Homo sapiens: one gene and its partner. The protein of the gene in region 1 purifies or fractionates together with the protein of each later gene. This does not show direct contact. Each region holds a gene or a part of one and is shown on either strand. Other genes may lie near its edges.

What was found.
Region 2: the proteins of NLRP5 (region 1) and DECR1 purify together in Homo sapiens (affinity purification with mass spectrometry; one large-scale study listed by BioGRID and IntAct). This does not show direct contact.

What each region holds. Positions count from the first base shown.
Region 1 is NC_000019.10:55,985,496-55,989,754, forward strand, and holds the start of NLRP5 (NACHT, LRR and PYD domains-containing protein 5), read left to right. Parts: upstream 1-1,279; 5' UTR 1,280-1,326; intron 1,327-2,318; coding exon of another isoform or gene 2,319-2,418; exon of another isoform or gene 2,419-3,134; intron 3,135-4,259. UniProt on the Homo sapiens protein: Component of the subcortical maternal complex (SCMC), a multiprotein complex that plays a key role in early embryonic development.
Region 2 is NC_000008.11:90,039,378-90,043,201, reverse strand, and holds part of DECR1 (2,4-dienoyl-CoA reductase [(3E)-enoyl-CoA-producing], mitochondrial isoform 1 precursor), read right to left. Parts: intron 475-3,824; coding exon 402-474; intron 1-401. UniProt on the Homo sapiens protein: Auxiliary enzyme of beta-oxidation. It participates in the metabolism of unsaturated fatty enoyl-CoA esters having double bonds in both even- and odd-numbered positions in mitochondria.

The DNA of each region.
Region 1 (4,259 bases):
GGGTAGTATTGTAACAAATGGTGCTAAATTGATTGTTCCTACATAGAAGAAAAAATCTGAATTCCTACCTCATACCATATACAAAATTAATTCCAAGTATAGTATAAATCTAAATATGAAAGGAAAGACACTACACTTTCTAAAAACTAATCAGAAGACCTTCATGACCTAAGGAGAGACCATAAATTTTAAAATGCATTCACCATAAATTCTTCAAATGGAATTTTCAAACACATTTGGCCAGGCACACTGGCTCATGCCTGTAATCCCAGCACTTTGGGAGGCCGAGGCGGGTGGATCACCTGAGGTCAGGAGTTCGAGATCAGTTTGGCCAACATAGTGAAACCCCATCTCTATTAAAAATCTGAAAATTAGCCGGGCATGGTGGTACACACCTGTAGTCCCAGCTTCTCAGGAGGCTGAGGCAGGAGAATTCTTTGAACCCAGGAGGTGGAGTTTGCACTGAGTACTCCAGCCTGGGTCACAGAGCAAGACTCCACATCAAAAAAAACTAAAAATAAATACATGGGACTTTATCAAAAGTATAAACTTCTGTTTCAAGATTACTAAGAGAGTACATTTCAAGTGTTCTCACCACAAAAAAATAAGTATTCAAGGCAATGGATGTGTTTGTTAGCTTGATTTAATCATTTGACATTGTATACATAGAAGATCACACCGGACCCCAGGAAAATATACAATTATAATTTGTCAATACACAAAAAATTAAAAAATGCCAAGTGCAACTTCCAGATTATGTAAAATAAGGGCACCCAACACACACTCACACTCACACACACACTCTATCATACACAGTCTCTCACACACACACACTCTCTGTCTCACACACATTGTCTCACACCCACTCACACAGTCTCACACACATTCTCTCACACACATACACACTGTCTCTGTCTCACACATTCTCTCTCTCACACACACATGCACTCTCTCTCTCACACACACACTCTCTCACATACACACACACACACACACACACACACACACACACACTAATTGCTTCAGGACAGCCAGCTGAAGGCTGTGAGCATCCGGGCGCCCTCAGCACAGGTGTGTGGTGGTAAAGGCAGCCTCTTGCCAGCAGCAGCACCTGTAAGTGGTGCACACAGGTGCAGAAAAGTGCCTGTTCCCTGGGGCTGGTGGTTCAGAGCCGGTTGCAGCCAATGAGCAGCAGCAACATCACTGGCTCAGCGCTCCCCAGGAACTATCGCCACGTGGGCGTGGAGCTGGGCGTGGCCTTCTTTTTTCCGTGATTGCCAGCTGGCCCAGAGCTGGACCTGCTCTTGGTGGTGAGGTGTGAAGCTGGTGAGTATTCCTCCTGTCTTGCTCTCTGCCCTTCCCGCTTTTGTTCTCCACTGCTGATTAGAACCCGCGTATTGAGCTTACTAGGTGCCCCCACCCTCTCCCTTCTGGCTGCTCAAAGCCCAGGACCAAAGGATTCCTTGAAAGAACAAAGTCCAGTTACCCCATTTTGCTGAAAAGATCTTCCTCTAAAACCTCATATTTACTTGGGGTATTTAGGTAAGTCTCTCGTCCTTTTCAGACATTCGGTCTAAAATACTGTACAGAGGGCTGGGTGCAGTGGCTCACGCCTATAATCCCAGCACTTTGGGAGGCCGAGGCAGGTGGATCATCTGAGGTCAGGAGTTCAAGACCAGCCTGGCCAACATGGTGAAATCCTCATCTCTAATAAAAGTACAAAAATGAGCTGGGCGTGGTGGCATGTGCCTATAATCCCACCTTCTAGGGAGGCTGAGACGGGAGAATCGCTTTAACCCAGGAGGCAGAGGTTGCAGTGAGCCAAGGTCACGCCACTGCACTCCAGCGTGGGTGACAGAGTGAGACTTCGTCTCAAGTAAAAATTAAGTACAGAGTAGGGGGTACTGCAACTTGAATGTCAGGATTAGCTAATGTCTGGTCTGCATTTGGTAGGAGTCCAGAGGGTGTTTTGGTGCTAATTGTGCAAATACTATGGTTAACCGTAACTTAGTTATTGAAATGCCATACAATTCTGACGGTGTTGTTTGTCCTGTTTACCAAGGGAGGAAGCTGAGCCCCAGATAAGTTAAATGGCTTGCCTGGGGTAGAAAGCAGCAAATCATTCAAAGCTGGGTCTGAGACTTCAAGCCCTATAATCTTAACTGCTGCTTTCTAATCATTCAGGACACCTGGGTAGAAAGGTGAGGTGGGAGGGGTACGGTCTGTAGAAAAAGCATAGAGACAAAATGCAAGCTTAGGGAAGTCACTCATCCTCAGAAAATAACCTCAACCAGCAGCCTTCCTTTACCTCCCTCCAGCTGTATTCCTGCCTGGACTCGAATAACTAGCTTCTCCCCAACTCCTCACCCACCCGACTTCACGGGAAAAAGTGACTGCCTATCCCAGATTAATCCTTAGGCCGTCCAGTCATCTTTCTCTGGGGCTTGATTGATCAGTTCCCACTCTGACAACTGGCAAATACCAGGCGTTATCATCCTGTATGCATTAACGTACTTTCCCCTGAAACAGAGCAACCCAGTCAACACCACAGAACCTCAGCTTTGAACCCTGGAGTGAGGACGGTGATGCCCTGTGTGTATTAATATGCTATGTAAGGCTGGGCGTGGTGGCTCACGCCTGTAACCCAGCACTATGGGAGGTCGAGGTGGGCAGATTACCTGAGGTCAGGAGTTCCAGACCAGCCTGGCCAACATGGTGAAACCCCGCCTCTACTAAAAAAAAAAATACAAAAAATTAGGCGTGGTGGTGGGCTCCTGTAATCCCAGCTGCTCGGGAGGCTGAGGCAGGAGAATCACTTGAATCTAGGAGGCAGAGTTTGCAGTGAGCTGAGATCACGCCATTGCACTCCAGCCTGGGCGACAGAGCAAGACTCTGTCTCAAGAAGAAAAAAAAAATACATATACACATAAATATATATATGTGTGTGTGTATATATATATATATATATATATATGCTATATAAAGTTTAAATGAAATGCTTTGAGTCACCTAAGACAGGATATAGACAAAGTCTTCATCGTCTTCTTGCTTCTTCTACCTTTATTTATTCTCAGCTCTGAATGTATGAACCTGCTCAATCACCTCATCTTAAAAATAAAATCACTGTCCCTAGACCATACTCGTTTCCTTACCCACCCCTGAGGCTTTTGTTGGTTTTTACAGCCCTGGTTCACGTCTTGGTCCTCCAGCCCCTTTAAAGGATTGTGTAGAGCGGTAAGGGAAATGTTTAATTCAAATTACGTGTATATAGAAGTGTTTAGATATGACAGTCCGAAATTCGTTCTTTCTCAAATAACCTTCCTTCTTAATTTCATTGCCTAAGTTGAGAGTCTTTGTCTTCTGTGTTTTGCTTTCAATTTCCATGTATCCAGGTGGTTTATGTTAACTCAGAAGGGGGAGAAAAACCTAGAAAATCTTAATTGTTCTGTGGTCAGGATGTAAGCTTTTAAACATGTGCTCAGAAATAAGTATTTTTCCATTTACCAATAGTCAATATTGTCCCTAAATATTTATAGGAATGTGTAGAAAAGCTTATTTTCTTGCTATGGTTCTATTTTGAGCAATACAGCACATAAACTTCAATGTTCTATCATCAGTGTTCACGTGTACCTAGTTTTTTGGTCTTCCATGGATGGGTAATTGTAAGAATACCTCAATTGTTTTGATGAAATTCATTTATGTCTACTTATCTTCTACTAAAATGATTTTTTAATGGGAGGTACTTTTTAGTATTTGGTGATTTTTGGTGTGTATGTGTTAGACAAAGTCTCCCTCTTTTGCCCAGGCTGTAGTGCAATGGCTGGATCTCTACTCACTGCACCCTCCGCCTCCCAGGTTCAAGCAATTCTGCCTCAGCCTCCCGAGTAGCTGGGATTACAGGTGCCCGCCACCACGCCCGGCTAATTTTCATATTTTTAGTAGAGACGGGGTTTCCCCATGTTGGCCGGGCTGGTCTCGAACTCCTGACCTCAGATGATCCACCCACCTCAGCCTCCCAAAGTTCTGGGATGACAGGCGTGAGCCACTGCGCCCGGCCTTTTTCAGTATTAATTTGAAAGAGCAGCAATATGAGAAGGTGTGGCGGGAAGTGTGTCCTTCCCTGCCCCCGTAGTGTCTCTTCCCTATTTTCTGCTCATCACCCAAAGACATTCTGCGCACGTGTATGGCATTAAGAGCCTTACAGATGGGGCAACTTTCTGTGCTGATTGTTGTGCATTTTTAAGGATGCAGGGCACGTT
Region 2 (3,824 bases), on another chromosome or scaffold:
TCTCTCAAACTAAAAATATAGTTACATTTCCTTGATTTTTTTTAAAAAAGGATGTCAGACAATGTAGGAGCCTTTAAAATGTCATGAAAGTTAACAAATACAGGACAATAACAGACCACTGAAACAAATCAGACAAAGTGCCAACATTGATGGTATAAAAGATCCCAAACGATTAAGACACTGAAATTGACATTATGAAGAAATTGCATAGCTGCTATATTCCTGCCCGCCTCCTTATTTCTTATATTCGATAATGAATAAAGGCAAAGGCCTCTTCCCTAGAACCAGGGCTCTAAACCTAGGCATCTCTGGAAAGTCCTTTACACAACAACCAGAATATACCTATCAGTGTTTCATTATTTAATCATTCACAATGTGATAACAAGCAAAATACAACTTACTTTGGTTTTTATAGGCCCTGGTTGAATCACATTGAATCGCATTCCATATTTACCCCATTCAGCTGCAAGAGACCTAAAAATTAAAATCAACAACATACATTCTGAAATATTATACCATATGTTAAAGACAGTAATAACTGAGACTCACTAGATGCTTACTACATGCCAGAGATTACAACCCCAACAGGTAGGTACTATTATTGTTCCCTATATTACAGATAATGTAACTAAGGCACAGAGAGGTTAAATCATTTTCTCTATGTCATATGGCCAATTTGTCAATCTCAAGAGGTCTAGCTTCAGTCTGTACCCTTAGTCACTCTACTGTACAACCTAACCTTTACATTTTAGTGTCCTTAACCACTATGCTACACCACCTACCATTTGTAGTTTAGAATATATACTTTTGTCCAATGTCAATACACATTTTTAGAGTAGGTATTCATTATTCACATAAAAACGTGAGTGCTTCATGCCCTTCCCTCACATTTTCTGGAGTTCAGTCTTGTAGTTACAAAGTTCATTATAACTTTACTCATAGCCCTGTACATTGGATTACAATGTCTGTAATATCACAAGTGCTTTATTTGAGTAAAAGAGTACATCGATTGAAAATATAAACCACATCCATGTCTAACTAGGCTTTAATATAATTGTTGAACCAAACTTGAAAGGAAATAGGAATCTAACAAAATCTTGCTTAATGTCCTGAAGAAAAATATAACACTAATAGCAAACAAAGAACTTCAAAGGAACTTGTTTTAAAAGCTTACTTTACAGGTAGCTCTTTTAAAATCTAAATTCATTTTAGGAATTTACATTCATATGTATATTTGTGTGTATATATACTTAATGTAATTTCAAATAATGACGAGGTAGCTTAAAAGAATTCATATAATGCAAATGAGGAAGACAGGATAATTTGAAAGGAAGAAGGAAAGAAAAAAAGCAAGATAAAGAGAGAGAAAAGCCAGGATAACGAAATATAACGGAGCCAAGAATGAGGCTAATATCTAAATGTACTGAAGTGTGTGATGTTCCATATAACTGCAATAGTCACATCACAAATTTGTATCTATTCTTCCCATGACTCTATACAAAAAAGGTAAGCCTAATCAGTTACACAATCCACAGTACCCATAAAGAAAAAGCAAGCTAATTGCTCAGGAAAAGCACAATTGTCTCTAATACGAAAAATGCTTTAAGTCTTTCTAGACTTACAAAAGGAAAATTGTACAGTATAACAATCTCCTTAAGACACTGTATCCTTGCAATAGATAAAATGGGCTAAGTTCAAACTTGACAAATGGGATCTAATTAAACTAAAGAACTTGTGCACAGCAAAAGAAACTATCATCAGAGTGCACAGGCAACCTACAGAATGGGAGAAAAGCTTTGCAATCTATCCATCTGATAAATGGCTAATATCCAGAATCTACAAAGAACTTAAAGAACTTAAACAAATTAAACTTAAACACAAACAACCCCATCAAAAAGTGGGGGAAGGATATGAACAGACGCTTCTCAAAAGAAGACATTTACGCAGCCAGCAAACTATGAAAAAAAAAGCTCATCATCACTGATCATTAGAGAAATGCAAATCAAAACCACGAGATACCATCTCATGCCAGTTAGAATGGCAATCATTAAAAAGTCAGGAAACAACAGATGCTGGAGAGGATGTGGAGAAATAGGAACACTTTTACACTGTTGGTGGGACTGTAAATTAGTTCAGCCATTGTGGGAGAGAGTGTGGTGATTCCTCAAGGATCTAGAACTAGAAATACCATTTGACCCAGCCATCCCATTACTGGGTATATACTCAAAGGATTATAAATAATTCTACTATAAAGACACATGCACACATATGTTTATTGCAGCACTGTTCTTAATAGCAAAGACTTAGAACCAACCCAAATGCCCATCAATGATAGACTGGATAAAGAAAATGTGGCACATATACACCATGGAATACTGTGCAGCCATAATAAAGGATGAGTTCATGTACTTTGCAGGGATGTGGATGAAGCTGGAAACTGTCATTCTCAGCAAACTAACACAGGAACAGAAAATCAAATACTGCATGTTCTTACTCATAAGTGGGAGCTGAACAATGAGAACACATGGACACAGGAAGGGGAACATCACACACTGGGTCTGTCAAGGGGTGGAGAGCTAGGGGAGGGATAGCATTAGGAAAAATTCCTAATGTAAATGACGGGTTGGTGGGTGCTGCAAACCACCATGGCACATGTATACCTATGTAACAAACCTGCACATTCTGCACATGTATCCCAGAACTTAAAGTATAATTTTAAAAATGCGCTAAGTTCTATGAAACTATCAGACATCCGTTAATAGTCTTATAGCATCATTTCAAAGGCCAATTCAGTAAAACCAGTTCTACAGAATAGGGTACACGTAATCTCAAGATAGCCTGTTAATCTGACTTAATCCATGAATGTATTTTAGAGAAATGGGTGGGCTGTATCTCTTTCAGACAGAACATACATAAAAATTGCTTCTCTGAGTGATGTTTTTGACAAAGTTCATTGCCATAGCTACCCTGGGCATTTATTTATAGTGTATCTACTCTAAATTGCTTCATGTCTTAATAGAATTACTGTACTGAGCAGAGTCTATATTATCCTATGAAAAACTGAGCAACCTGTTAAGAAAATCTGCCTAGAGGAAAAGCCATCCTCTCTGTGCTCAGAGGTGTGCCAGATACATTTGTTCAATTGCTAGCATGATCTTTCAACTGTCATTAAGCTAGCTGATATACTGAAGAACTACTGTAATCTGATAATGAATCCACCTCATACAGTTATCTCTGCATGTTAAGATGCTAAGAACAATATATGCAATATGTTAGCCATTATTATTGCTCATTCAACCAATGTTTATTATATACTTACCATGTGTCAATACTATAAATATTGCTTAGCCTCAAATAAAGTCAGTCCCTGCTCTCAAATGAGAGTCCCTCCCTCTCAAGAGAGGTGAGCCTGGTTATATAATGAATCAGTTACTAGGCTGGGAATTGTGTGATGTAAGCTATACCTGCTTAAAAGAAGAAGAACCTAAGTGGGAGTGACAAGGAAGGCTTCTCTGAAAAGGTAACATTCTGAGCTGATGGGTGAAGAAGGATTAGGAGTTTGCTGCAAGAGGCAGGGGAAAGGAGGAGCTGAGAGATTAAGAAGGTAGGATGGTGACATGGTTTGGCTCTGTGTCCCCACCCAAATCTCACTCTGAATTGTAATAATCCCCACATGTCAAGGGTGGGACCAGGTAGACATAACTGAATCCTGAAGACAGTTTTCCCCATGCTGTTCTCATGATAGTGAGTGAGTTCTCACAAGATCTGATAGTTTTATAAGGGGCTTACCCCTTCACTTGGAACACATTCTCTTTCCTGCTGCC